Linked DNA regions of Homo sapiens. The protein of the gene in region 6 purifies or fractionates together with the protein of the main gene of each other region. This does not show direct contact. Each region holds a gene or a part of one and is shown on either strand. Other genes may lie near its edges. The genes, in order: PWWP3A, SPRYD3, ZNF507, ZNF318, YEATS2 and NMNAT2.

Evidence for each region.
Region 1: the proteins of NMNAT2 (region 6) and PWWP3A purify together in Homo sapiens (affinity purification with mass spectrometry; one large-scale study listed by BioGRID and IntAct). This does not show direct contact.
Region 2: the proteins of NMNAT2 (region 6) and SPRYD3 purify together in Homo sapiens (affinity purification with mass spectrometry; one large-scale study listed by BioGRID and IntAct). This does not show direct contact.
Region 3: the proteins of NMNAT2 (region 6) and ZNF507 purify together in Homo sapiens (affinity purification with mass spectrometry; one large-scale study listed by BioGRID and IntAct). This does not show direct contact.
Region 4: the proteins of NMNAT2 (region 6) and ZNF318 purify together in Homo sapiens (affinity purification with mass spectrometry; one large-scale study listed by BioGRID and IntAct). This does not show direct contact.
Region 5: the proteins of NMNAT2 (region 6) and YEATS2 purify together in Homo sapiens (affinity purification with mass spectrometry; one large-scale study listed by BioGRID and IntAct). This does not show direct contact.

What each region holds. Positions count from the first base shown.
Region 1 is NC_000019.10:1,374,545-1,379,597, forward strand, and holds the end of PWWP3A (PWWP domain-containing DNA repair factor 3A), read left to right. Parts: intron 1-1,600; coding exon of another isoform or gene 1,601-1,613; exon of another isoform or gene 1,614-1,974; coding exon 1,975-2,032; 3' UTR 2,033-3,885; downstream 3,886-5,053. UniProt on the Homo sapiens protein: Involved in the DNA damage response pathway by contributing to the maintenance of chromatin architecture.
Region 2 is NC_000012.12:53,072,043-53,077,109, forward strand, and holds part of SPRYD3 (SPRY domain-containing protein 3), read right to left. Parts: intron 3,770-5,067; coding exon 3,694-3,769; intron 3,178-3,693; coding exon 3,053-3,177; intron 2,743-3,052; coding exon 2,607-2,742; intron 1,430-2,606; coding exon 1,244-1,429; intron 1-1,243.
Region 3 is NC_000019.10:32,354,852-32,359,918, reverse strand, and holds part of ZNF507 (zinc finger protein 507), read right to left. Parts: coding exon 4,962-5,067; intron 3,304-4,961; coding exon 3,186-3,303; intron 1-3,185. UniProt on the Homo sapiens protein: May be involved in transcriptional regulation.
Region 4 is NC_000006.12:43,341,233-43,346,299, forward strand, and holds part of ZNF318 (zinc finger protein 318), read right to left. Parts: intron 1,648-5,067; coding exon 1,444-1,647; intron 980-1,443; coding exon 880-979; intron 1-879.
Region 5 is NC_000003.12:183,805,205-183,810,271, reverse strand, and holds part of YEATS2 (YEATS domain-containing protein 2), read right to left. Parts: intron 3,407-5,067; coding exon 3,180-3,406; exon of another isoform or gene 2,243-3,179; coding exon 2,168-2,242; exon of another isoform or gene 2,160-2,167; intron 1,543-2,159; exon of another isoform or gene 1,420-1,542; intron 1,176-1,419; coding exon 1,102-1,175; intron 254-1,101; exon of another isoform or gene 1-253. UniProt on the Homo sapiens protein: Chromatin reader component of the ATAC complex, a complex with histone acetyltransferase activity on histones H3 and H4. YEATS2 specifically recognizes and binds histone H3 crotonylated at 'Lys-27' (H3K27cr).
Region 6 is NC_000001.11:183,247,737-183,251,058, forward strand, and holds the end of NMNAT2 (nicotinamide/nicotinic acid mononucleotide adenylyltransferase 2), read right to left. Parts: 3' UTR 501-3,322; downstream 1-500.

The DNA.
Region 1 (5,053 bases), on a different chromosome or scaffold from region 6:
TTCTCTGGTGCTGCGGCCGGTGTGCTCTCCCCTATTTCCAGGTCTGCTGGGGCGCACATCAGAGCCAGCAGCCGTTGTTGATCTCTTTTGATCCAGGGCAGCCCTATTGCTGAGAGGGGTTGCTAGCTAAGCAATTGTTATAATTTTCCTTTACAGGGAGGTCACTTAGTAAGGACAATTTGGCATCTCATACTCTTTCGTAAAAAATTATTTTTAGTCAGTCACAGTGGCTCATGCCTGTAATCCCAGCACTTTGAGAGGCTAAGGTGGGAGGATCCTCTGAGCCCAGGAGTTTGAGGCTGTAGTGAGCCATCATTATGCCACTGCACCCTAGTCTGGGTGACAGAGCAACACCCTGTCTCTAAAAATAAATATTATTTTAAAACATTGTTAAGGCCTGGTGCGGTTGCTCACGCCCATAATCCCAGCACTTTGGGAGGCCGAGGCAGGTGGATCACGAGGTCAGGAGTTCGAGACCATCCTGGCCACCATGGTGAAACCCCATCTCTACTTTAAAAAAAAAAAAAAACCAAGCATGGTGGCACGCGCCTATAGTCAGTCCCAGCTACTCAGCAGGCTGAGGCAGGGGAATCGCTTGAACCCGGGAGGTGGAGGTTGCAGTGAGCTGAGATTGTGCTACTGCATTCCAGCCTGGTGACAGAGCGAGACTCCGTTTCAAAAAAAAAAAAAAATATTACACATCCTGTAAAAGTTACCATCCTAACCTTCTTAAGTGTATGGTTCGATGGCGGTGAGCACTTTCACAGTGCTATGCAGCCGGTACTGCTGCTCATCTCCGAACTTCATCTTTCCAAACTACAGCTCTGTCCCCATCAAACAACTGCCCTCTCATATATATATAATATATATTATATATATAAAATATATATAGCCATATATATTTATATATAATGTATATTATATAAAATTTATATATTATATAAAATATATAAATTTTATATATAATATATAAAATCATATAATTTATATATTTTATATATAAAATATATATTATATATAAAATATATTATATATAAAATGTATAATTTTATATATTATAATATATACAATTATATAACAATTTTATATATTATATAATATATAATTGTATATATTATATATAAAATGTACAATTTTATAATATATAAAACAATTTAATATATAATATATATAAAGTATGTATACTTTATATTATATATAAAATATATAATTTTATATATCATATGTATATGTAGACATACACACACACACATATGTATTTATTTATTTTTTTTTTTTTGAGACAGAGTCTTGCTCTGTCACCCAGGCTGGAGTGCAGTGGCACAGTCTCGGCCCACTGCAACCCCCCCACCGTGCCTTGGTTCAAGCGATTCTTCTGACTCAGCCTCCCGAGTGGCTAGGATTGCAGGTGCCCACTACCACGCCTGGCTAATTTTTGTTATTTTTAGTAGAGACAGCATTTCACCATCTTGGCCAGGCTGGTCTTGAACTCCTGATCTCGTGATCCACCCACCTCGGCCTCCCAAAGTGCTGGGATTACAGGCGTGAGCCAAAGTGCCTGGACTCTCTGTCATACTCTTTTTTTTTTTTTTTTTTTTAGAGACAGAATTTAGCTCTGTCGCCCAGGCTGGAGTACAATGGCATGATCTTGGCTCACTGCAAGCACCACCTCCCGGTTTCAAGCGATTCTCCTACCTCAGCCTCCTAAGTAGCTGGGATTACAGACATGCGCCACCACGCCCGGCTGTTTGTTTTTTTTTTTGTTTGTTTTTTTTTTTTTTTGGTATTTTTTGTAGAGACAGGGTTTCACCGTGTTAGCCAGGATGGTCCTGATCTCCTGACCTTGTGATCCGCCTGCCTCGGCCTCCCAAAGTGCTGGGATTACAGGCGTGAGCGACCACACCCAGTCCTCTCTCTCATATTCTTTAACACACAATGATTAATTACTAAAATGAAGACTCTTGTTTTCTGAAGGGAAAAAGAAATATTTGACAACCAGCTCCTTGAAGAGCGGAACCGGCGCCGTCGGTGAGGGAGCAGCCGGCTGTGCTGTCAGCGGGGCCTGGCGGTGGAAGCGCCTCCAGTGTGCATGAGCGTGTCTGAAGATGGGGGGCTCAGGGGGCACGTTTGCGTTTGGACCTGTCTGTGCGTTCTCCTGCGTGGCAGTCCTGATTTCCATGCTTCTGGAGAATCCATTTCGTTAACACTGAAAGCCAGTTCTCTTTTCCTGGCAGTTTTTTTCATTTTATTTTTGGCATTTTTTACAAGATACCGTTCGGGAAAGGCTTTTGAAAGGACGGAAGCGTATTCACTGTGCGCCAGTACTCCTGGCTGTGCTGTGGTTTCTCCCGACGTGCACATCGATCTCGTATGTGTGGCATCTGATATTAAACGGGAGGTTTTAAGAAGCGTCTGCCGTGATCATGGAGCTTCGGAAGCGGGAATGGTTCTTCCGGGTTTGCTGTTTTGTCTGTTTCCCCCTTGTGTGGTTTCCGCCTGCGACAGTTCCAGAATTTGCTCTCCCACTCAGTGTGCTCTGCAGCTGTGAGGAAACAGCCTTCGTTAGAGGCGGGAGCAGAGACGAGCCGCTGCTCTGTGTCGTGTTTGCTGTGGCCGCAGGGAGAGGAGCAGGACACGCACCTTTCCAGGGGCCTCTGTGTCCCGCACTGTGTGTGAGTGGACCGCAGCGCGCAGCCACATGCCCTGGCTGCCATGGGCCAGACCGCCTCCACCTCCCCCGCCCGCCTGGCCTGTCCTGAGTGCATTTCCCTGCACTGTGTCGTCACTGCACAGCCAGTCACCGCGGTCTCAGTCATCGGCGCGGATGGCTATGCTGGGGTCCCAGGGTGGCCGCAGCAGTCAGGGTCACTGTGGGAGCCCTGGGGTGGAGTGACAAACCGCATTGTCCTGTGCCCGCCATGGCAGAAGCGCAGCCTTTGTATGGAGGCCCAACCGCGCTCCCGTCTGGAGAAGCGGCTTCCGGGGTGTGGCTGCCGGGTCGGCTCTGGTCCACAGCACGGTGCCGGGGCTGCAGGTTGTTGAGGGCTGTGACTCCGTGGGGCTCAGCCAGGCTCCAGCAGGGTCAGACGTGCTGTTAAGAGCAAAGCCACAGACGATGACTTGTCCATTCTCAGTGGATGCTCCAGGCTGTGCCTACACAGCAGTGCTGGTGACATGTCCAGGGTTCCAGGGCCCGGTGGCCTGGGAGCTGCTTTCTCCCCACTGGCTGGGCTGCATCTGGCCCTGGCTGGAGGCCTTGCTTTGAGGGGCTGTGACCCTCTTCCCCCAGGCCCTCCCCAGCCGACGACAGCCACCGGAGAGGAGATCGGAACACGATTGTCTCAGATGCAGGGCGCTGTGCGGGACGAAGCCGCAAGGACTCTCGTATCGGGCCCTTGGGACTCGGGAGGTGCCAGAGGCGGCGGCTGCTCTGGACCTCGGTGTTCACTGACCTTTGTTTCACTTGCCTCTGCTCGACTCCGAGAGCAGGAAACCCGGCCGTGGCCTGGCAGCTCCGCCTCCCATGCCCGCACGCTGGGGTCTGTCTTGTCTGGAGCAGTGGGGCACACCCCGGAGGAGGCGGGGGTCAGGGCTGTCGGCCTTGGCCCCCTGCTGGTCGCTGTTTCGGGGACTCGGGGCGGCCAGTACCACCGCCTGAGGCGGGGCTCAGCAGCGTTGCATGTACGGGCCTCGTACTGCCTCATGGAAAATCCTCCGGAGCCGCCCTCCATTGTGGGTTCCTGAGAGTAGGACACATTGCCATGGTTTTGTGGGAATCACGCGCCCCTGATGGAACTTTTCTGCTGTTGTGAAGTACTTTTATCCATTTGCTTCTCTGCTGACCTTGCCAAGTTGTTCGAGGTGGAATTAAACACCTCCCAGACCTCTGGCTTGTCTTTTCTGAACCCCCAAACACATCCCACTGCATGGGTTGTCCAAGCTTGGAAATGGGAGAGTGACCCTGCCATCCCCAGGGACATGGCCTGGCCTTGGGGTGGATTCCCACCTCACTGGCGGGCCTAGGGTGCTGTTTAAACAGCAGCCAGAGGCTGGGCGCGGTGGCTCACGCCTGCAATCCCAGCACTTTGGGAGGCCAAGGCAGGTGGATAACCTGAGGTTAGAAGTTCGAGACCAGCCTGGCCAACATGGTAAAACCTCATCTCTGCTAAAAAAAATTAGCGAGCATGGTGGTGGGCGCCTGTAGTCCTAGCACCTGGGGAGGCTGAGGCAGGAGAATTGCTTGAACCCGGGAGGCAGAGGTTGCAGTGAGCCGAGATCACGCCACTGCACTCCAGCCTGGCCACACAGTGAGACTCCGTCTCAAAAAAATAAACAGCAGCCAGGGGCCTCACTGGGGTTCATGCCTGTGGCCCCAGCTACTGGGGAGGCTTAGATGGGAGGAACACTTGTTTGGAGGTCAAGGCTGCGGCTCCAGTGAGCCGAGATCACGCCACTGCACTCCAGCCGGAATGACGATGAGCACCTGTGTTGCAGCATAGCCCTGCCCAGCAGGTGGAACCAGAATGTGCCAGAGGCCCCCTTGTGCGTCCCACCCCGCCTGCACCCTCTGCCCTTACTGTCCTGTGGGCTCTGAGGGTGTCAAGGCCGCTGGGACAGGCCCTGCCTGGGTGCTTCCCTCAGTAATGGGGGGTCGTGGGTGCTCTGGGTTGTCAGCCGGGCAGTTGAGTGGGAGTCAGGGGTGCTGACCTCACAGGCACGGCCAGTGAGGAGCATTCCGGGGCCCTGAGGATGCCAGCATGGGTGGTCCTGGGCTCGCCCTCTCCACAGCATGGCTGGCGTTCCTCGACTGCCGCCGGAGCCCCGGGAAGACAGGCTTGACCCCGTGCACACACGCAGGGAGACGCCAGGAGCCCTGCCCTCAGAAGCCTGCACGCTTTGCCTCTCTTCTGGCAGCTAGCTAACCCTGCATCCCCACCTGAGCCTGTCCCTGGCACTGAGGACACTGGACCTGTGTCACTGGGGTGGGGTGTCCTGGGTCCTGCTGGGTGCTGAGTGTCTCCATGCCAGGAGCTCCCGCCTCTACCATCGAGAT
Region 2 (5,067 bases), on a different chromosome or scaffold from region 6:
GTGGGGACAGGTCCAGGCAGAGAAAGGATGCCAGGAAAAAACTCTTGAGGAGAGGTCAGAGATGAGAGCTGGAACATCGCCCTGGCGCAGCCCCAAGTTTAACTCTGTAGATGTTGTCAGAATGATGGTAGATTGAGGGGAAAAAGGAAAGACATGAGAGTCACGGAGTGGGCATCTGAGGCCTCTTAGCTCTCGGTCGCTGCAGCCTGGGACCCTGATGCCAGACGGGGGTGCAGAGTGTCAGAAGCAGCAGGAGGGCACACTTCCTGTCATTTTCCCTGAGTTCCACTCCACCAGGGGGAGGCCTGGCTCCTAATCCGCTCCCACCCCCCACTGCTTCTGTTTTGTTATCAAAGACTGAGTTGAAAACAGCCTGGGTTGGGGTGGAAAGGCCAGAGGGTGGAGAAAAAGGCCAGGCCAGGAGCAAGGGGGTAGGAGAGGGACAATTCGAAGTGGGAGGGCTGAGCAGCCCACTAGAGGTCAGGGCCAGATCCCGGACTTGGCGTCCATTCACTCCCAATGCAGCACAGTGTATTGAGGCAGACAGGAAGAATTTTCCTTTCTCAAGGTTCATGAATTTTCCAACAAAACTTAAAATCCGGGGAGGAAGAATTCCCCTTTCTCAAGCTCCACACGCTTCCCAACGAAGCTTAAAATCCATACTAAAGCAGGTATGAGGAAAAGATAAATGAAGCAAGTTTGGAGGTGTAAGGATGCTCACTGAATCTTTATCTGCCTCCATTCTAATCCTCTATCAAATGCAGGGATAAGACAATAGAAACTGACATTGACACTTCCTCAAAAAAGATGGCTAAGAACCTTCCACCACATGTGTGGACTTCTGACCACACCTGCCCCACAACACTTTGAATGAAAAGCCTGGGCCAGGCATTTTGCCTCCAGATCAACCCCCAGCCCCTCAAAGGCAGTTGTGCAGGGCTGTAGAAGACACCAGAAGCTGAAGGAACCAAAAAAGGCAAAGCAGAACTACTTGTTCCCAGGGTCAAACTGCGAACCTGAGTTCCCTGAAGAGGAGGAAGTGAAGAAAAGAGAACATGTGCTAAAGAAAACACAGATCTGGACTCAAGGACTCATGTCAAGAGCCTAGGCTATCTTGCCAAACCCCACACGGACACTGTCCCGACTCCCCATTCCCAGCAATTCAGACATGACCATGTGCCCACAGGTGTTCTGCCCAGCCTCCTCCGACCCAGCCCCTCCCACCCTCCCACCCGCTACTTACAGTCCCACAGACTCTGACATCATGTAGCCGGCCCCATTCATCCTCGTAACTGTCCACCATCATGACGCTGTCGTCCTCACGGCCCAGCTCAGCGTTGAGGTGCAGCCGCACCTCCTCACCCAGGGAGTGCATGCCCACTGCTGGGAACAGTCCATCTGGGGACATGGGCATGATGGTAGAGCCCACCTGCAGTGGGGGGAAAGACGGAGCTGCCACCCGGCCTGCTTTTCCATAGCTCACCTAATTCTCACAAGGGTACTTTTAAGATGATGCAACCAGCCGGGCGTGGTGGCTCACGCCTGTAATCCCAGCACTTTGGGAGGCCGAGGTGGGCGGATCACAAGGTCAGGAGATTGAAACCATCCTGGCTAACACGGTGAAACCCCGTCTCTACTAAAAATACAAAAAATTAGCCGGGCGTGGTGGCGGGCGCCTGTAGTCCCAGCTACTCGGGAGGCTGAGGCAGGAGAATGGCGTGAACCCGGGAGGCGGAGCTTGCAGTGAGCCGAGATGGTGCCACTGCACTCCAGCCTGGGGGACAGAGCGAGACTCCATTTCAAAAAAAAAAAAAAAAAGATGATGCAACCAATAATTATCACACACACTGACAGATTAAAAAAAAAAAAGCAACCCAGAGGTGCAGAAAAGTTTCCAAATGTGCTAAGTACTCCTGGCTAAGCAAGGTATGTACAGAGCTAGAAGACAAACACAAGTCTCCTGACTTGCTGCCAAATACTTTCAGTACGTGTGCTGGACAGGAGAGTGCCGAGGCGCAGATGCTAAGGCAGCAGGACCCCTTGGCCAAGGCCTGAGAAACCAATTTCCCAATGTGGGAGATGGAGTTGGAGAGAAGGGAGAGAGCTGTGTGTCTCTCTCTACTATTGGCTCCTGTCCCATCTCCTCACCACGCCTAGTCTCTCTACGAACAGGATAGTGAAAGAGACGTGAAACAAGGAAAACAGGACACAGAAAGGACATATCCCCAAAAGTGCTCAAGTCAAAACCCAAAGAGGACCTCCAGCTTACATGGCCAGGCCATAATCTTCCCCTCTCTTTTATCTGCTCAAAACCTTCCCCCAAATCACCCAATTCTGTTCCCCACAATTCCTGCTCATCCTCTGCTCCACTAACTTGCCTCTCTCTGCCTGTCATCTGGGCAATGTCCCAGCTTCCTCTGGCCATGGGAAGTATCTTCTCCTACACGCAAGAGACTTCAGGAGAATCTGAGGCTGGACTGGAGGAGATGGGAACTCAGTGCAAGGGTCCCTGGGCAAGCCCCAGCCAGCAGACTCTTCCTAATCACTCCCCACAAATCCTTGGGCAGATTTCAGCCACGTAAATCCCACCACTATTTCCCACTCACCCGCTTCCCATTTTTGGTGAAGAAGATCTGGGCGGTCTGCACATCAAAGGACACAGGCTCAATGCCACAGCCAATCCGGTCCCCGGAGTTGCACTTTGACCCAAACTGGCGGCCCTTGGCTCGGCCATTGTACAGCCTACAGACAGAGTAGTACAGACACAGGACCCGAGCCTGGCCTCCCAACTTCTCCCCAGCACTGACAGCAGAGGCCTCATCCTCATCTTGCTGCTCCTGGTCATTCTGTGATGGTACCCACTTACGTCCTGGCGTGAGCATCACCCTCCTCTAGTCTGTAAGCCTTCAAGGGTGCTGCCAGGCCACTTCCCTGTCCTGACCAGAAAAGTCTATGAAACACCCAATGGGAAAAGCCAGCCCAAGGTAGTTCTTCAGATCTAAGATTCCCAAATTCATAGGAAAAGGGCCGGGTTGCACAGGAGCCAACTCACTTGCCATCATCAGCATGGTAGGCTACAGAGTCAGGCAACCAGCCAGGCTGGTGATCCAAGCTGTAGTACTGAGGGACCAGCCCCACAGCAATGGTGCCCCGGACTCCACTGTCCACAATAGACACCTGGAGAGAAGAAAGCAGGGCACAGTCAGCAGGGCTGGGAAATGGGATGAATTGCTGGGGGTGGGGGAAGGGGACTTAGAGATTAAAGGGCGCTGAGGCTCAAAAAGAAAAAGGACATGGGAATCAGGAAAAAAGATAAGATACTCAGAGGGGGCAATTGGTGAGAGTGGGTGCCTATTTCACTTAGAAAATTACTCCAAAGCTTTGGAGAAAGATAGGACTCACGTCCCTATATGGTGGGTTTGGGTTAGGGGACATGAGTCAAGTCTGGGATATGGGTCAAAGTCTACCTAGCTAAGGGGTAGGAGAGCAGAAGGGACAGGGTGACAGGTTTCCAGGGCACCTATCTCTCAGATGAGGGGCCATGCTATCCTGCACCTATTTCCCAGCCAACAGGACAGCCCTGATGGAAAATTAAAAGGCCCAGGTCATACATCTAGTAAAGGAGCTTCTTGGGGCTTAATGATCTCACCCCCAAGCTCACCCCCTGCTCTGCCCACCCACTGCCTTGATCACCTCAAAATAATTGCTGTCCTTGGTCAGGGGTCGAGAAGCCACGTAGCAGCCAACTTCACCAGAGTTTCCATGATAACTGAAGGAGGAATGAGGGGGGAATTCCATTAGCAGCCTAGCCCAAGAGTAGGGGGAGGGCCTCAGCTTCTCCCACCCTTACCCTGCAAGGGCCAGCACACAGGAGAATCCATCAGGCTGCACTTCAGTACATCGGCAGACATCAGAACCAGATACTTAAGGTCACCTCACCCTACTCCTCTCGCAGCCTCCAGCTGGAATCCAACCCGTACCAGACCAGTGCAAGCCTGGTTTCTTCATTTCCAGGAGGAAAAGAATGTAGAGCCTCCCTTACTTGCCTAAGAGAGGTCTCACAACCCTGTGTAACCTCAATCTCTCATGCTGCAGCTTCAGCCCTTTTCCTCTGGCTCTGTCCTCAGTGGAGCTGGAGAATAATGGCTGGTCTCTATCCTCTTTACCAAAGCCCTTCATCGATTGGAAGACAGTGATTCAGTTCCCACTCCTCAGCTTTCTTGCCTCTAGTTAAACAGTACTACTTTCTTCCCCCTTCAGTGGAACTCTGTGAGAGCATGGGCTCAGAAGGAGTCAGGGAAGGGGTTCAAGCCAGAAAAGAGGGAGGAAACACACACAAGCTAAGGGGCTGGAAATACAGGAGTTGGTGGACAGGGTACACTATAGAATGGCCCTTCCCCAAACAGGAAATCAACTATCTCTGAAACAGCCACTCTTCACTAGATCTAATCCCTGAGACAGTGGCAGAAGACTCAGTTACCCCACTGGAGTCTTCTCAACAAAGCACCTAGGAAGCTTCTGAGACCCCAGCAGCCTCCTGTGTCTGATGTGATCCCTTCCCCTACCCAGCTGGATCCCCTCCTTGCTGGATGAGGACAGAGCCACCCAGTGACAGAGGCAGAGGTGAGTGCAGGGTGAAGCAGCACACACTGCTCCACTCAGAAAGGCCTCTGGGCGGGTGGATCACTTGAAGTCAGGAGTTCAAGACCTGCCTGGCCAACATGGTGAAACCCTGTCTCTACCAAAAATATAAAAAATCAGCCGTATGTGGTGGTGCACGCCTGTAATCCCAGCTACTTGGGAAGCTGAGGCAGGAGAATCGCTTGAACCCAGGAGGCGGAGGTTGCAGTGAGCTGAGATCACGCCACTGCACTGTAGCCTGGGTGACAGAGCGAGACTCTGTCTTAAAAAAAAAAAAGAAAAAGAAAGGCCTCTGGAGTCAAGAGCATCGCCCTTCCCTGTGCAGTGCACAGTCCCCTTCTCTGAAAAAATAAAAGTTAAAAAAAAAAAACCCTTTCCTCTCTAAGATCTGGAACAGAGAAGAAAATGTGGAAGCATTCTCCTGAA
Region 3 (5,067 bases), on a different chromosome or scaffold from region 6:
TCTCTCCCCCACTCTCACCCTACAAAAAAAAAGCCTAAGGCCTTTTCACCCAGTGCATTTTCTTTGTTTACCACTAAACGTCAGCTACCAACGCAACAAGAAAGGAAAAGCGGCCGCAAATTTTTAAGTGCTATGCAATGTATAATTCTTTCTAGTTAACTGACAGGTTACAGGGACAAAGGTTATGACTGACATGAATATGCAGCTCTCCGAAACGCAGGAGACATGGATCCAACGAAAAGTAGCCATGTTACTAAACTCACTCTGCAACAACAGGGCTGAGTAATTCAAGTTGGGGTAAGCTTATGTCAACACGAGTTGAGTGACTTGATCATATAAAACGATTTCTTGAAGATATTCAACGCTTCATGTACTTGTCTGTCAGCATACAGTCCACAGGCTATTCACACTCTGCTTTATATTCAGAAACAAAGCAAGCATGGAAGCTCATGAAAAAGGCAGAGCAGGAAGAACTGTGTGTCTCTTGGCAGGAAGAAAGCTTAGGTAGAACACCTGTATACACCGCATAAAAGTAAAATCCGTGGTATTATACAAAGGAAAACCCACACTGAAATTTCAACAAAGAAAATCCTTAAGTTAAATTTACGGTTTCTAAAATTGAAATTTTCTTTTGCTAATAACTACTGCCAAGCAGAACAAAATGTCCTAATTTCCTGGTATAAATCTATAACGTTAATATACACACTAATCATAATTATAATCTAAGTATTGCTCTTAATTGGTAGGTTAAAAACTTGGACTTGATTATAAATGGCACTGTTCCAAATACAGTTTTAAAAAAACCCTAAAAAATGAAGTGTGAAATATTGGATAATGGTTTTGTGTGAGAAATATTACAGATCAATGACAACTAATAAAACTGACAGATGGAAAAACTTAATATAGCACAGAATGAGAGCCTGTGCTACTTCAAGCAACTGTTTCCAATGGAAAGAATATTGGATTTAAAGTTCAAAAACTTGGGCTTAGTCCTCGCTCTGCCACTTTCTACCAGTATGATCATGGGTAAATTATTTTGCCTCTTGAAGTCTCAGTTTTCTCATCTACAAATTGGAAATGCTAGAACCTCACAGCATAGTTTAGTAAGTCCTATATTTTTCCTTTAGCAAAGTCTGTACTTTACCTGCATGTCTGGGTAAAATCTCTGCCCTGCCACTAAGCTGTCTATTCCCTGAGGATAAGGATCTGCTTGTTTTGTTTAGACTGAATCCCCAGCGCTTGGCAAATTATAGGTTTCCAATAAAAAACAATTTAATTAGGTTTCATGGAGTAACACCATACGAAAGGGCTTTGCTTGCGGCTCTATTTGAGCTCCTGCGGTATCTGCTGACATACCCATCAGCCTCGTTCTGTCTTCTTCACTGAGTTGGATTCCTGAAGGGCAGTGATGCCTTTCACTGTACTCCCAGCACCTAACACAGTATCTAGCTCAAGACAGGCAGGCCATGCCTTTTGGCCAAGCAAATGTTAAGCTGAAACATGCCCTAAGGTATCTGTGCTATCTGAATGGCAGAGACTGAGGATCACAGAGGCACAAATCTCTCTTCTTGTTTAACAAGTTTACTAAATAGGTAAAGAAGTTTTAACAAAGCATGAATTATTATTACCTTATTTGTGAGCTAAAAATTTTTTCTTTGGCCTGACAACCAGATTTCAAAATATCTAATATTGAGTTAATAAAGTACCCATCCAGGTATAAGTATGCAGCCATTTGAACTGCTACAGTACTGAGAGAAAAAAGCAAATGGAGCCAGGTGGAGGAAAAGAGGCATGGCAGGCAATTTAAAAATCCATGCATGTAACCCTAAAAAAAAAGCATGAGCCACAAAGAAAAGATGCTGCAACATAAAATCTAGTAAACATTCATTAATACTGTAAAGTCTGAAGTGGTTATTTTAATTTTGAGCTGACACTTTAATCTTTTTATTAAAATTGTGAATTTTAATGTTAACTCATTTGGACAGTTTGAAATGTTTGCTTTTTAGGACGGTGCTAAAAAAGACATCTTCCAACACTGATATTAACTGCAGGTGGTGCTACTGAGTAGTATTTACTTCATCCTTTCATTAGGGATTTATGGTCCAATCATATCAGACGTTTTAATGTCTCCTTTAAAGGGGATATGGAAACATAATGAATTAAAATAAAAGGAGGCATTTAGGGCTATTTTGTAAAAAGGAAACAAAACTGTTTTAGCTCAGCCATCTACTGCAAAAACAGATGCTATATCATAAACTCCTTTTGTTTCAGAGAGTTTTACAGGGATGACATCTGTTTGACATGAGAATTTTGGTGCTACAGTGGTGTCAAAATCAGTTCTTTCAGAAGCATTCTAGAATCAGTTATGCTTTCTGGGGTATAATTTAATGAAACATTATGGTAAAACATTTCACTCTGTAGTCGTTTCTAACTTTAATTCTTAGCAAATCTAAAAGGGAAAGTCACCCCAATATGTCTTATCTCCCATAAACATTATGTGCCACACTGGAGACATTTAAAGTATATCAATTTAAGTGAGCTGAACCAAAGCGGCACAGCTTAGTACACTTTATCCTTAATTCTCCGGATGTGGCATCCGCCTTTTCATGGAGCTCTAATTAAATCTTTTGATTCTAATATTCTTATTACCAGAAACTCGGTTGACTGCTACTTAACTAGTACATAAAAAGATCTTGTGTGTCTGTGTGTGTGCTTTTTTTTTTTTAATAATGCAGATGAAATCTGGCAGTCATACTTGGGTAAGAATAAGATCACAGCGGGGAGCCCCAGTTAAAGTTTGGGGTGGGGGCCTACCATCTGCAAAAGCTCTGTTCTCAGTAGGTCAACTGGTGCCGAGAGAGGGAGGGGAGGCCTGTTTTCCATGTTGTAGCTTTTCTGGCTTGCTTTTCTGGCTTGCTGGTACATCACCTTCTAAGGGGCTCTTAAGTTTCAACTGAAGATGAATCCTTACTATCTAGGGCTTCTCACCTAGGACCTAGTAATCATCTGCTTCATTCAGTACTTGGCATTTCCTCAGAAACAGAGATCAGATTCACTCACATCCATGGTACAAAAATGGAGGAGAATATAGGCTTTTGCCCTGAAAATAACCAACCATGACAACTAAGGGCACTTTTATGTCATGTGCAAGTCACTGCAGCCTGCATAACAAAATACATAGATACCTTCCTGGACACATTTTCCATCAGCTGTATCACTGGAAATTCTTGGCTCATTAGAAGTTGCTATTGACAAGGTATCTGGAAGACTGTGCTGTTCTCTCTCATGGTTCCTCAATTGACTCTAAAAAGTGGAAAGAAATATGTAATTTTCAATAAATATACATGTCCAACTCTTAGGAGGCTGTAGAAGAACAGGTTCATTGCTTTCATGGCCTAGTACAACGAATTACCATATTTTAAAATCAAGTCTGCTAAAGGATCATTTGACACATTTGACAATTTATAGAAAGAAGTACATTAGCAAATCATAATCACATTCAACGGACAGTTCCTCTTCATATTCTCTGAAAGGAAGTCACCATTTTCTTAGGTGATTACACAGGGCGTGTCCGTATTTACTGAAACACTGGTAGGCCCAGAGGAGGAACGAGCAGAGTGTTCAGAATAATGCAACTTCACAAAAAAAAATCCAATCAGTAATCACCAGACTCCTAATTTTTCATTGAAATATCTAAATGTGTAAGAGATCTAACTGGAAGTGCTCCTCCAAGGACATCCTGTCTCCTCTACTTCCATTCCCATGAATCAAGAGCTCAGTAGCAAAAGAAACTCCTGGAGACTTCAGGAACTTGTCTTTGCAGCCTATGTGGACATCCTACTTGGAATTTCATGAGTGTAATCTGAGAAGCAGTGAACCTCAGACTCAAGGGCTTTCTTATTCCTGTTACCTTTTTTTTTGAGATGGAGTCTCGCTCTGTTGCCCAGGCTGGAGTGCAGCGGCATGATCTTGGCTCACTGCAAGCTCCGCCTCCCAGGTTCAGGCCATTCTCCTTCCTTAGCCTCCCGAGTAGCTGGGACTACAGGTGCCCACCACCATACCCAGCTAAGTTTTTGTATTTTTAGCAGACAGGGTTTCACAGTGTTAGCCAGGATGGTCTCAATCTCCTGACCTCATGATCTGCCCGCCTCGGCCTCCCTCCTGTGACCTTTTTACCACAGCTAGACCCCAGCTCTCGGTAATCTGAGGGAAAAAGTCTACCTCCTAGTTAGCCCTTAGGATAACATTTGTAATACATTTTCAAGGAGTCACCTGGCCCACTGAAGAAAAGTTCTAAACCAATGATTCAACGTTTCCTTTATAAAAGAATAGCACTTCATACAGGATATTGGTTTTGATAAGGTCAGCACTTAAGATAAAAATCAGACAGTCAAAATAACTCTTGAAAGTTCTTTACCCTGCCCATAAAACATGACACACATGGCTCTATTTCCATGACAGTACCTTTTAATAGGTCCGCCATAGCCCATTTTTCCTTCTGCAATGATACACATCACTGTTGGTTATGTAGAAGCTGAACTGAATGCCTGGCATTCTGGGGCCATATAAGATGAAAAATATGTATTTTTTTGTTGTGATGATGTACGGTTAAATTTGTTTAAGTCAAACGTATGTCAATACGTTAAGTCAAACGTATGTCAATCCACTATACACTCCCTACAATTCTCTTGCAACAGAAAATCAACACTTTAAACTATACACACTAAAACACAGAGGCTGTCAAGGAGGCAGCAGGCAGGGAAAAGGATTCTACAGCAGAAATTCTGAACAGTCCCAACTTTAATACTGGTAAGTTGGGATCCCCTTGGGCAACTTATCAAACTTTTCTGGGACCCAGTTTCCTTATCTATAAAATGAGGTGATTGGATTAGATCTACAAAGTTCCCTTCTCACTCTAAGATGCGAAGGTCCTCTGAAAGACTTCCTGAACCAATGCTTACCTTATAATGGAAGGATTCTTCACACTGCTTGCACTGGTATATTCTTGTCTTACAGTGGTGGATCATGTGACTCTCCAAATCTTTGCTGTTGTCCGCTATGTGCTCG
Region 4 (5,067 bases), on a different chromosome or scaffold from region 6:
ACTCCCAAATAGCCCATTACCATTTTATGATGATCTCTCATGTTGGTATTAATTACTGAGGAAACTATCTTCTGTAAATCTCAAGGGTATAGTAGCAGCACTAGCTACTTGTGAAGGTAAGAAATTGAAAAGTTTATGGGCTGAGCACAGTGGCTCATGCCTGTAATCCCAGCACTTTGGGAGGCAGAGGTGGGCAGATCACGAGGTCAGGAGATCGAGACCATCCTGGCTAACACAGTGAAACCCCGTCTCTACTAAAAATACAAAAAATACAAGGCATGGTGGCAGGCGCCTGTAGTCCCAGCTACTTGGGAGGCTGAGGCAGGAGAATGGGGTGAACCCGGGAGGCGGGGCTTGCAGTGAGCAGAGATAGCACCACTGCACTCCAGCCTGGGCAACAGAGAGAGACCCCATCTCAGAGGAAAAAAAAAAAAAAAAAAGAAATTGAGAAGTTTAAAGACAAAGGAAGTTTCTGCTTCTCCACTTACCCCTTAATAACAATGACTCAAAATATTGTATAGTTCTTAGTTGAAAAGGCAGTTAAATTACTGCATCTCCTGTCCTTTTTAACCTGGATTCCAAACAAGTAAGATTTTGGGCCCATAAGCCAATGACAAAGACAATTCTGTTTTAAGTGACATGTCTATGTTTAACATCTGTGAATAGATTTTTGGCCATATGGGTAGAGATCATGGTCTTATAGATCTCTTTATAGCTTCAGGACCTAGTACACTGTTTTGTACACAGAAGGCATTCCTACGGCTTTGTTAAAAGGAATGGCTGTCTCATGCTATGCTGCTTCCTACAATGTTAGTTCAGGGACACCTCTTCCTCAACTGAATGTAAGGAAACCACAAAGGTGGCAAAAAGGAAACATACCTTTTGCAGGAACAGTTATCTTGTCAGTGCGCTTTATGGCATCTTGCTTGGCCTCACTCTGGGTCTTTGAAGCCCAAGGTCTGTTGTAGGGATCCAGTGTCTATTTGTAAGAGGCAGAGGTGCTCACACAACAGCACTAAAAGCTCAATGACCCACTTTTCTCTTTTTTTTCCCCCATAATAAGACCAGGGGACCAGAAGCCCCCAGCTACCCACCCCCACCCCCTCTGCCAACTGTTTTAATGGAAATCACCTGTGGAAAAGGTAAACACATGTTAGAGCAAGTACCAGAAAAAGGTAAAATGAAACAAAAAAATCAGGTACTCAAGGAATCAAAAGAGGCAGAAACCTCACTTACACTTGTCATGGTGTTTAGTTACAGCCAAGTCCCCTGGACTGAGCCCTGGGGATGGTGTCTCCTTTGTTGGTGTCTCTTGGCTCTTCAGACTGGGGCTCCTGCCCATATGAGAATGTTTCCTTTTCCAGCTTTGCAATGCAGATAGGGGTATAGAAGTTTGAAGAGAGTGAGGGTGGGAGTGAAAATAACAGAGAGTAGGATACCAACCTGTGTGTGCTTCTTATTGTGCATATGAGTGAAGAAATCAAACATGGTCCCACAGATGGTGTTGCAGTCTTTGCACCAGTGATTGCCAGCATCATAATACTCATAAGCAGCAGTGGGCTGATCCAACTGCTTAGTGGCTGACTGGGGGCTTTCGGCAGGCTTGGGGCTCTTAGTACGAAACTTCTCATTGTTTACTTTTGATTCCTAGAGGGGAAAAATCTGTACTTACAAGGAATTCAAGGCAATCTAGACTTGTCTTCTGTTAGAAATAGTAAGTGGCCATAATAATAGAAATAGGGCCATATGACCATATTTCCAATGTTTAAAGCTGCACAAGTTGGGGGGAACCCTAACAGAAACATGTCTCTAAGACATAGAACTATTTGACTTCATAGTGCTATCACAGCATAAAAAGTAAATCATAATGGCAATATATTTACTTACATATCCTAAAATATCTCTAGAAGAACAGCCAAGGTTGTGGAAACATTGGCTGCCTCTGGGGAAGGGAAGTGGAGAACAAGGATGGGTAGGAGTCTCTTCACTGTATACCCTTTAGTAAATGTTGAATATGTTACCTATGCAACTAAACAGTTAAATTTGAAAATCATGACAGCTAGGGAGGGAAGAAAAACCAATATGGAAAAGGTAATTGACAGGCTAAGCAAAGCAAATGCAGAAAATAGGTGATAGTGAACTCATCACATGCATCCTGGTATGAAAAACTGGAGAGAAGGGTTGGTGTACATAGATAAAGTAGACTATACAACTACACATAGATAAAGTCATCTATGTAGAATGATTTAAAGGAATCTAGGAAAAACATTCCTAACTGCCTAAAATATCACTTTTAGAATTTAACAACTTTAGAGGCCAGGTGCAGTGGCTCACACCTGTAATCCCATCACTTTGGGAGGTCGAGGTGGGCAGATCACTTGAGGCCAGGAGTTCGAGACAGGCCTGGCCAACATGGTGAAACCCCATCTCTACTAAAAATACAAAAATTACCCGGGCATGGTGGTGTGCACCTGTATTCCCAGCTACTCGGGAGGTTGAGGCACGAGAATCACTTGAACCCAGGAGGCGGAGGTTGCAGTAAGATAAGATTGTGCCACTGCACTCCAGCCTCAGCAACAAGTGAGACCCTGTCTCAAAAAAAAAAAAAAAAAAAAAAAAATTTTAACACCGTTAACATGTATCCTTTTTAAAAATATATCAACTTCTTAATATTAAAGTTATCAACAGCAAATACTTTAATATGAATTAATTTATTACCAAGCTGGAACAAGGCACTCAGGAAATGAGAATTTTGGTTAATGTTCAGGAGTAAGGCACAGGAAAAAAAGATAATTTTTGCAACTCAGAGGCTCACTATGAATGGGGTTCTATAGTACACAAGATGAAGAGCTGGGTACCTGGAATATTGGCTCACGCAGGGAAAAAGGTAGGATACAGAAAGGGAAACAATTGGGGCTTCAAAGATACTCTTTCCCTACCTGAGTCCTATTCAAGAATCACTAAAGAAATCACACCAGACAGGCAGGGGATGGGAGAGTTCATACACTCCTGGTGGGAGTATTAACTGGCACCATCTTCTAGAAGATAATCTAGGAATACATTACATACCTCAAAATACTGTATACCCTTTAACCCAGCAATTCACTCCTTGACATTTATCCTATGGAAATTATCATGTCAAACAACAGGTGATTTGATTGGTTAAATAAATTTTGCTTAACCATGCAACCAAAACAACAAAAAATAAGGTTGTTAAAAATGGTATTATAGAAGTGTATTTACTGACATGGAAAGATGTTCATGATATACTGAGAAAACTAATAAAATACACTTGAATAATCAACAAAGATATGTAAATCGGCATACAGCGTTGAATATCACTTTATCCAAAATACTTTCTCTAACCACTCTATACTCCTTATCCTGTTTTCTTTTTTTAGGCACTTCTCATTACCTAACATGGACTTATTTATTTATCATCTTCTGCTATTTAATGAGAATATGAACCTTGTCTATACTGTTCAGTGTGATACTTCCCATATCTAGACCAGTTCCTGACACTTTATTGGTGACCAATACATATTTGTTAAGTGAATTGATGGACAGAATTAATACTTTGGTGTATGTATTTGGAATAACATACACCAAGGTATTAATAATAAATTAATGTATTTGGAATATATAATAATACCTTGGTGTATGTATTTGGAATAACATACACCAAGGTATTAATAATATTATACACCAAGGTATTAATAACAGTGGTCTCGGCTGGGCCCAGTGGCTCATGCCTGTAATGCCAGCACTTTGGGAGGCTGAGGTGGGCAGATTACTTGAGCTTAGGAGTTCGGGACCAGCCTTGGAAACATGGCGAAACCTCAACTCTACAAAAATACAAAAATTAGCCAAGTGTGGTGGTGGTGAGCACCTGTAGTCCCAGCTACTGGGGAGCCTGAAGTGGGAGGAATGCTTGGACCTGAGAGTTGGAGGCTGCAGTGAGCCATGACTGTGTCACTGCACTCAACTTAGGTGACAGAGTGAGACCCTGTCTCAAAAAAAAAAAAAAAAAGTAATAATAACAGTTGTCTCTAGGTAGATGAAATTACAAGTTTGTATGTGCTTTTCTGAAATGAACAGAAAGGGAAAGAAAATCTCAAACCAACTATACATTTTAAAGAGAGGTAAAGAAAGAAGAAATACCAAGGACAGGTAGGAAAGAAAGGCTGTGGACATAATATTCCTTACTGCTGAGATGAAAACTGAATTGTAACATATCCGTTAGTTTCAGAGACCATGAAGACGCACCCAAATCAAGATGACAGATTATCATTGGGTTCGTACATGAATAGAAATCCAATGTATAAGTCAATTACAAAGGACCAGAGCTTTTAAATTCTTCTCCCATCAAAGGCCCTACCTAGACTGAAGACCCAGGTATAAAAGACTAGGCCTACCTGGTTGAGAAAGAAAACTCTCCTAGGAAGACATGGAAAAAAATAGAGCTTGGGTGATAACACAGAATATATTCTCTTTCCTACCTCTCAATATTAACTGAGGATGTACTATGTGCTAGACATATTGTATGCAATGGGAAACACAAAGATAAAAAAGATTCCTCTTTTATCCTCTCGGGCCAGGTGGGGTGGCTCACATCTGTAATACTAGCACTTTGGGAGGCTGAGGCGGGAGGATCATCACTTGAGCCTAGGAGTTCAACACCAGCCTGGGGACGGGCGCAGTGGCTCATGCCTGTAATCCCAGCACTTTGGGAGGCGGGGGCAGGTGGATTACCTGAGGTCAGGAGTTCGAGACCAGCCTGGCCAACATGGTGAAACCGTCTCTACTAAAAATACAAAAATTAGCTGGGTGTGGTGGCACACGCCTGTAACTCCAGCTACTCAGGAGGCTGAGGTAGGAGAATTGCCCAGAAGACAGAGGTTGCAGTGAGCGAAGATCACGCCACACGCCACAGAATAAGACTCTGTTTCAAAAAAAAAAAAAAAAAAAAAAAAAAAATGCTGGGCAGGGTGGTTCACGCCTGTAATCCTAGCCCTTTGGGAGGCCGGATCACGAGGTCAGGAGTTTGAGACCAGCCTGGCCAATATG
Region 5 (5,067 bases), on a different chromosome or scaffold from region 6:
AATAATTAGGAAAAAAGATTCTGAGAACTGAGAAAAGAGAAAGAAAACAAAGCGGATGGCAGAACGGAATGACACATTTGTGAGTGAGTCTCAGCAGACCGAAAGCTGAGTCAAAGCACCACAAAACTCTGGGACCTTATTTCCCATCTCCTAGAAAGACGGGAGACGGAGCCACGCCAGGCCAGGCGTGATGTTAATCGTTCCATCAAAAGCACCTAAGTCACTCTACCCCTCCAGGACAGGGAGCACAGAGGTAAGCAGGGGCCACAGGAGGCCCTGGCTCACTTGTGGGTCCAAGCAGGACAGTGGGCAGCAGGACCGGAACTCTTGGTTCCCCTTCCTTTTCTCTAAAGACGCCTATGTTGTCTGATATATTCCTGTGAAGTTTCATCTACTATTCCTCTGATTTAGGCCCTTCATGTCCTCAGGCACTTTGCTACAATTTTATAAATCTGTGACAGCCTTTAGCATAATGCAATAAAATAATATTTGTTTCCTCCGAAAGAAAAGCAGATGTGGCCTATCTACCATCCTTTCAGGGCCTAGGAACAGACTGAAACTCAGTGTCTTAATCAAAGACAACGAGTCAGCAAAGAGCAGTGGCGAGCCCAGGGGCCTCAGAGCCAATGAGACCTGAGTCGGAAGTCCAGGTCTACACTGTATTTGCTGGGTAAGCTGGGTAAAATTACCTTTCAAAGCCCGGTTTCCTGATTTTTAAAAAGAGAATAATAGTTCTGCAATGAAAAACAAATTAGGTAATATATGCAACGCTTGGCCCTCGTGTCTGACATGTAATGGACACTGTTATCTTTAATTGCAAAGCTAATATTTATTCAACCCTGTAATAAAACAGAGTCCTAGGTGTCTGTGAAGTAATGAGGAGGATATAAACCTCTGAGCAAAGCTGAGTGAGCTTTCACAACCATGAGGTTCTCTAAAAATGACAAAGCAGACCCTTGAGCTCATCTGGCTCTAAGAGTGTCCTAAGCACTCACTCCATCTCCTACTGGATTGATGTAAGTATAAAACACCTTCATGGGCAATTCAACTGTTAGGAAAGAGGTGTAAGCCTCACACCACAGACTGCAGAGATAGTAATACCTGTTGTGAGAAGCTGTCTGGTATCCAACTGCCAAAGCCTGTCTCAGGATATCATTCACCAGCTGTTCTGTAGCCTACAATGGAAGATGCTGTTATTCTTCAAATGGCCATCTGCTTGCTGGCAAGAAGGGACACATTTAACCCCATCCCTTACCCCAAATGTTTGAAACCACTGCAACTAGGGATTAAAAAGTCCTTAAGAAAAAATTAAAGGCCTCAATAATAGACCATAATGATAAAGGCCATGATTCTGAGAAATTATGAATTGGAGTGATTTTCATTAATCAGACATTATTCTATTTATTTATTTATTTTGAGATGGAGTCTCACTCTCGCGCCCAGGCTGGAGCGCAGTGGCGCGATCTTGGCTCAGTGCAACCTCCGCCTCCCGGGTTCAAGCGATTCTCCTGCCTCAGCCTCCCAAGTAGCTGGGATTACCAGGTGAGCGCCACCAAGCCCAGCTAATTTTTTATTTTTAGTAGAGATGGGGTTTCACCATGTTGGCCAGGCTGGTCTCCAACTCCTGATTGCAAATGATCCACCCGCCTCGGCCTCCCAAAGTGCTGAGATTACAGGCATGAGCCACCGCGCCCAGCCCTAGACATTGTATTTAAGGAAAGCAGTTGTTACGGAGGTATCCCTATTCTTGGAGAGGATCCACGAGGAAAGGAACTGCTGAGCTAGGATCAGGCTGGGGAAGGAGGCTGCGGCATTTTCGTCCCCTTGCCAGGGTCAGGACAGTTGGGGCTGTTTGCTGTTGTGACGTGTACAGAAAACCATAGGCTTTGTCTCTGCCACCTCCTAAAGCAACGAGCACACTGACCACCACCCCCAGAATACGTCTTAGGAGGCACCTGAAACCACATGACTCAGAGGAAACATAACTTAGTCCATTTAAAAATCAGAAGGAAAAAAAACAAAAAAACAAAAAGAGAGAACTTAAGCCCAAATAAGACGAGACATTTTAAAGCCTGTTATCTTTGTTCCTTTTCTGTCCTTGCCCCTTACTCCAAACCGCCTGGGATGCAACCATCCTTCCTGGCTGGCGGCCCCTGCAGGCACCCACCTTCAGGATCATGTCCTCCACCACGGACGCATACACGTTCCTGTGGAGTGCCACGGGCTGCAGGGTGATCCCAATCTGGAAAAGCAGAAGAAAGCCGTTTGTTCGTATCGCTGCTTTAGAAACAGCCTCTCTCCAAACAAGCATACCTCCCTGACATGCAAAGCGATGCCTGGTTGGAAGGAGGACTCTGCAAACATATTGGGCAAAATTCACGGGAAAGGAACACGGAATATAACATCTAGAAGAATGTTATCTTGTTTTTCCACATTTCTGGCTGATATTTAAAATATGACTATAATCCTATTAAAATCTCTCAAATCTCCTTCGTGGGAGAACATGGTTGGGATCTGCCTGGGTTCTGATACGCAATCAACACTTTGAAAGGTCTGGAATCAGACTCCAACGTCCTGTTTGCACTTGGAAACTGCATCTTGCCCATTCTTCATGGCATCCAATGAAAGCACACTGTCTTTCACCTTGGGCCCTGAGCAACTGGCAGATGCTGAAGAGCTGTTAGGCTCCAGCAGGGTGGATAAATACCTCTCTCCTGTATAGTAAGGCAGGTGCACGCCATCTGCACCACAGGCGGGGCACTCAGGAGCTATCAACACATCAGGGGAGGATTACGCGCTGACGTGCAACTCAGAAAGAGTACGACGTGCCTCATGAGGGAAAGGTGCTTCTACTGAGGCAGATGAGAAAAACAAGATGAAGAGTAATCAACCATTTCTATCTAGCCAGCTTTGCTTCACGTCTGCGTTCAACAAGCAATGTTTTCACATGTAATTAGCATTTCTGCCCAAGGGCTCTGATGTGGGACGGTGGGAGCCCTGAGAGCACACCTGGGTCAACCAGGCAGAAGGAAGTCAAGCATCTACGGCACCAGAAGAGTCTGGGTCTGAGTCTGTGTCTGTGAGGCTGAACACCTGGGTCTGGGTCTGTGAAGCTGAACGTCTGAACATCTAGCTCTGAGCTGGTCTGCTGCATGAACTATTAACACCACAACCCCTACCTTCTGTGTGACATCCCCAATAAATTCAGACCCTGGGGTTGGTGGCAGGTAGAACTTGACTTCCTCTTGTTTCTCTTCCTGCTCCTTCTTGATGTTTATCTTCACTGGCTCGGAGAGGCTGAGGATGTCCACCTCCTCCTCATTCTCGGGTTCCCTTTTCTGGAACTGTTGCAGGTCCTCCAGTTTGCGGCAGAGGTTGTCAGCAGAGGAGAATGATGATGGGCACTCTAAATGACAGGCAAGCAGTGTTACAACAGCTGTGGGGCCAACGGAAGAGGACTTTCCGTCTCCAAGAGACCCATGGTCTGAGGAAGGGGGATAAGCATCAGGGGAGCTGACCTTCTTTCCAGTTCTAACATTCTATGGATCTATAATGATGAGAACTAGTAATTCACGAGGGAGAAAGGCATAAACACAGGCATCTTGTGTGTGATCTATGTAAGGTAACTGCCATCTAAGATGAAAGAGTAGGAATTCTCACTTCTGCCACCAAAAACCAGGTCATCCCCCTCCCTCTGAGTATTAAGGACTGACCTGATTTTTCCTCATCTCAAATCTGGAAAATTTAGAAATGCAGAGTGAAGAAAATAAAAAGAATCACCCCTATTCTCACTGCTCAGAGAGCAGGACTGTTAACATTTCAATGTATATTATGGGTCCAGTCTCTAATAAGGTGATTTATACAAAACCTAATCAGGAGTGTGAGGACCTCAAGGCCAGATCTAGGGCACTAGTGCCCTTCCACTTTCTGGATGAGTGTGTGAGGTCCACACCAGGTACAAGATTTAAGGGCACCCAGCTCCTGGCCTTTTGTTTTACTGACTGGGCTCTAACAAGCTCCAGCTGCTCCTCAAGTTATGATGGCTGGGGCTATATCCTGAAAAACCCATCGTAAGTTGAAAATATCATTTTTGACTTAGGATATTTTCAACTTACGATGGCCTTATCTGGACAAGGCCATCGTAAGTCAAGGTATGTGCTGATGCCTACAGCTTTCAGACCATTGTAAAGTCACAACATCAAATCACAGGTCAAACCATTGTAGGTTAGGGGCCGTTTGGAATCAGTCAGATTAAAAGGAAGCCTAGTATGTGCAAGTACTGTGCTTTCCACACAATGTCAGTGAAGCCCGGGGATCATTAACACGGTCTCTGCTCTCCGAGTAGCTTACACAGCGAAGTCAGACAAGCCCTCATGCTGTTGATATTAAGCGCTGCAGGAGATGAGAGAAAGGAGAGGCCATCCTGCATTAGGCTCTCAAGAAGCTTAATGGCAAAACTGGGACTTGCCCCCCCTTTTTTTTTTGGACAGGGTTTTGCGCTGTCACCCAAGCTGGAGAGGAGTGGCATGATTACAGCTCGCTGCAGCCTCAACTTCTTGGGCTCAAGCAATCCTCCCTCCTCAGCTTCCCGAATAGGTGGGACTACAGGCATGCACCACCATGCCCGGCTAATTTTTGCATTTTTTGTAGAGGCAAGGTTTCACCGTGTTGTCCAGGCTGGTCTTGAACTCTTGGGCTCAAACAATCCTCCTGCCTCAGCCTCCCAAAGTGGGAGGCCACTGAGCCCGGCCCTAAGTCTTAAAGTAACCCCACCTCTGTGCTCCAGGTTTCCTTGGACAGGAGGGGTGGAGCTTCTGTTTTTCTATATAAATGGGGCTGGGGGCAGAGAACAACTTTTCTTTTTATTTTATTGAGACAGGGCCTGGCTCTGTTGCCCAGGCTGGAGTGCAGTGGTGTGCTCATGGCTTACTGCAGCCTCAACCTCCCGGGCTCAAGTGATCCCTCTCACCTTAGTCACCCAAGTAGCTGGGACTACAGGCGAGCTACCACACCCGGGTAATTTTTGTAATTTTTGTAGCGACAAGGTCCTGCTATGTTGCCCTGGCT
Region 6 (3,322 bases):
TGACTGAAGGTGAAATAAGAACTGATAATCACAGCAGGATTGAACAGTTAACAAATTGTTCACTTTTGCTTGTTTACATTGCCAAAGCAAATTGCGAGTTTAACAAGTTCTGTTTTAGTTAAGATCTTTCAAGCTAAAAAGTTGTTCAAGTTTTTCATTTTCACAAATATAATTTTATTTCATAAAATACTAATTTCATTGAGGAGCCAAAGTTAACCAACACTGGACTATGCAAATTAGTCAAGATGTAAGATTTAATGTTTCAAAACTAAGAAAACGGAGGCACAATTTACAAATTTGCTAATTATTCTTCCCTTTATCATCCTTGGATGTGGCTGTACATACTTTTATATAACACATGTGGCATCAGCTGAACCAGGCAGGAAACTGCTTGTTCTAAGTACATTTTTACAACTGTTGTCTCCTGTCAAGTAAAATTATGAAGAAAAAGTGATTAATGCTGCAATTCACAGAGAAAGTTCTTGACCAAGACACAAGACTCTTGTAGCATTGTCTTATTTATTAACATAATTGAAACATTTTGCATAAAACTCTTGCCCATGACTATTCTAGCAACAAAATTGTACTCAAAATATTTCACTGTGAAATGGTATTGCAACTTGAATATCATTTTTTATTAATGAATTGATTTCCATAAAGCAAATCTTACTCTTAAAATGGCAGATTATGTGATCAAAAAGCGATTCAAAAAAGCTTCCCCCTCCTCATGCCAACCCTCAAGACCATGTGGATCCAGCTGAATCCTCAGCCCTGGGACTAGACTAAGGTTGAGGGAAAGAGCCGTTAACTCATTCCTAACCAGAACAGGCTAATAGGACACTCCAAACTCACACTACAAAGAGACCACATGAACAGTCGAGTGTGCTGGGCAGCTATAAGATGGTGCAGACTGGATGAATTTGGCAGAGCATATTCATCACCATTACTACAATGCTATTCCTAAGGTGTCCTAATTGTATGAGCTACAAAATCGGTCCCTGTTTCCATTCTTCCCATCTCACCTGTTGGCCCTCCTGCAGTAGGTAGCCTTGGGAGAGATCCTGAGCTTTTCATATTCTACCGTTTTATTTTTGCATTACTGTTTGGATGAGTAAAATGTAATAACATGCTTCTCTCTCTTAGTCCCCTAAAAGAGTGTGTGTGTGTGTGTGTGTGTGTGTGTGTGTGTGTGTGTGTCAGTTTGAGGAGAGTAGAATTGGGCTGGTAAGTACAAGTTTTTTCTCCCTGTAATTCTCTGCCTTTTGCTGTAGTTCAGTTATTATTGAGTCTCACTTTCTACTTAATTTGAACAGCAAGTTCTTTAATTCTTTCTGAGAAGCTGGAGCTTGAAACTAGAGAACATTGTTGAAAGGCTGGCCAAGCTGAGACAGGAAGAACGGCGTCTCTAGAAGCTCTAGCTTTGGGTTTCAGGCACTTCAGTAAGAGACTTTCCCCCTTGTTCCTATGTACATTCAAGGAAAATGAAAGCAAGAAGGCTCTAGAGGCTGCCTGGGGTTGGGGGTGTGTGACTGAGGTACCCACTAGCAGCACAGCCCTCCCAGAGGACCATTCCTTAAGGACAGAGTTATTGACAAAAAGGGTTTTCCTTCTGCCTGTTCTTACATCAGCCACTTTCAGAAAAATGGGAGAGACATTTTTTGCTGGTGAACAGGAAACAAAGCTCCAGACCCCTCTGGACATGATTGTTCCAGTCCATGCCTTTCTCACAACCTCTGAGCCATGCCAGTCTTGGATTGGGCTTTGCAGGAAGGAACAGGACCCCAGAGACAAAGTCGGGGGGTAGAGGTTATCCTGTTGGCACCTGGGGCACCACTTCAGACTCTGAATCATCTTTCTGGTATTGACTGTGGCTGGGTCATGGTCACAATGTCCTGTCCTGGATTTAGTTGTGCTGTGACCTTCCCCTAGCAAATGAAGAGTAGGGCGTGTGTGTGTGTGTGTGTGTGTGTGTGTGTGTGTGTGTGTGTGTGTGTGTTTGGGGGGTAGGGGGTGCGGCGATGGGAATGGATGATTCTATCCAAAAGAAGATTCACTTTCTTTTTATATTAAATAGGAAACCTGTTTTTAGTACAGTGCCTGTAATCCACAAAGATAAGATCTGCCCCACTTCATTCCTAGAAATCTACTTCTATGGCACCTGTTCTTTGTCTTAATTCATCTCACTTTCCCTCCCCACTCCCACATGCTTTCGGACTGCATGCTGAGAGTGCAGAACCAGCCTCATTCCTTCTCATGGGCTGTAGACCAAATGGGGCTTGACCAGAGCAGAGTGACAGAGTGGACCAAGAAACAAAAGAAATCGAGCCTTCCTCAGGTCTGCTCACGTGGGTCCCATAAATTCCATCCATAACTCCAAGTCCTTAAACAAGCCATGTTTCCCCAGGAAATTCAGGCACCTGTTTTCCTTTGTTTCATTTCCTGGCTTATGACTGTTCTGCCTGGACAAGGCTGTTCCATCTTTCGCTCTCCAGCAATAGCATCATCCTGAGCACTCTGTGGGTCTTCCTTCACCTTCCACAAAGCAACTCTTTCTTGGATTGATGGAGTCCGCTTCTGGGATTTCTTCCAAGCTGCTGAGATCTCTTTATTTCTAAAGGAAACCTAACAGTGGCCTTCCTTACTATCACACCCTCCCCTGGGACTGGCATTACCATCCTATGTGTGGAGAGCACCTGGGACAGATATAATTTAAAAGAAAGATGCCAGGGTAAGGCTTGGGAAGTGTAGAAATCATATGGGCACCTGGTCAGCAACATGAGGAAATGGAGGGTGTGGTGTGACGGCCTAGGGGTCAGGGAAACAATATGTTCTTGTCAGGCCCTACACCTGCTGGCTGACCTGGACCAGCCATTTAATCCCATGGGCCTCTGCTCCCTCAACTTTTAAAGGAAAGTGTTGGATCAACTGAACTCTAAAGTTTTTTTCAGTTTATTATTTCATGATCCCTAGTCAAACACTGATACCCCAAAATAGGATTTTCCTTCCTTCCTCTGAAGATTATTTCAAAAAATCCAAGAGGAATAACAGACTTTCTGGATGCTGCTCTACCATGTTCTTCTGTTAAATCAAGTTCCTTTTCCCGCAATTGAAGGATGTTGCAGATGTGAAACGTGTGGTAAAGAACATTGTCTTTGCTTTCAGGTCCCACCTGGCCCTTTCTGGCCGTAGCTGGTACTAGATTTTGATAAAAGTATCCTAATACTCAGGGACTATTTCTCAAAGACCAGAATCCCAAGAGCCAGAGACTGGATGAGAGACACAAAGCACAAGACAGCAATTTCCTTATGGCTCTCCAAGCAGG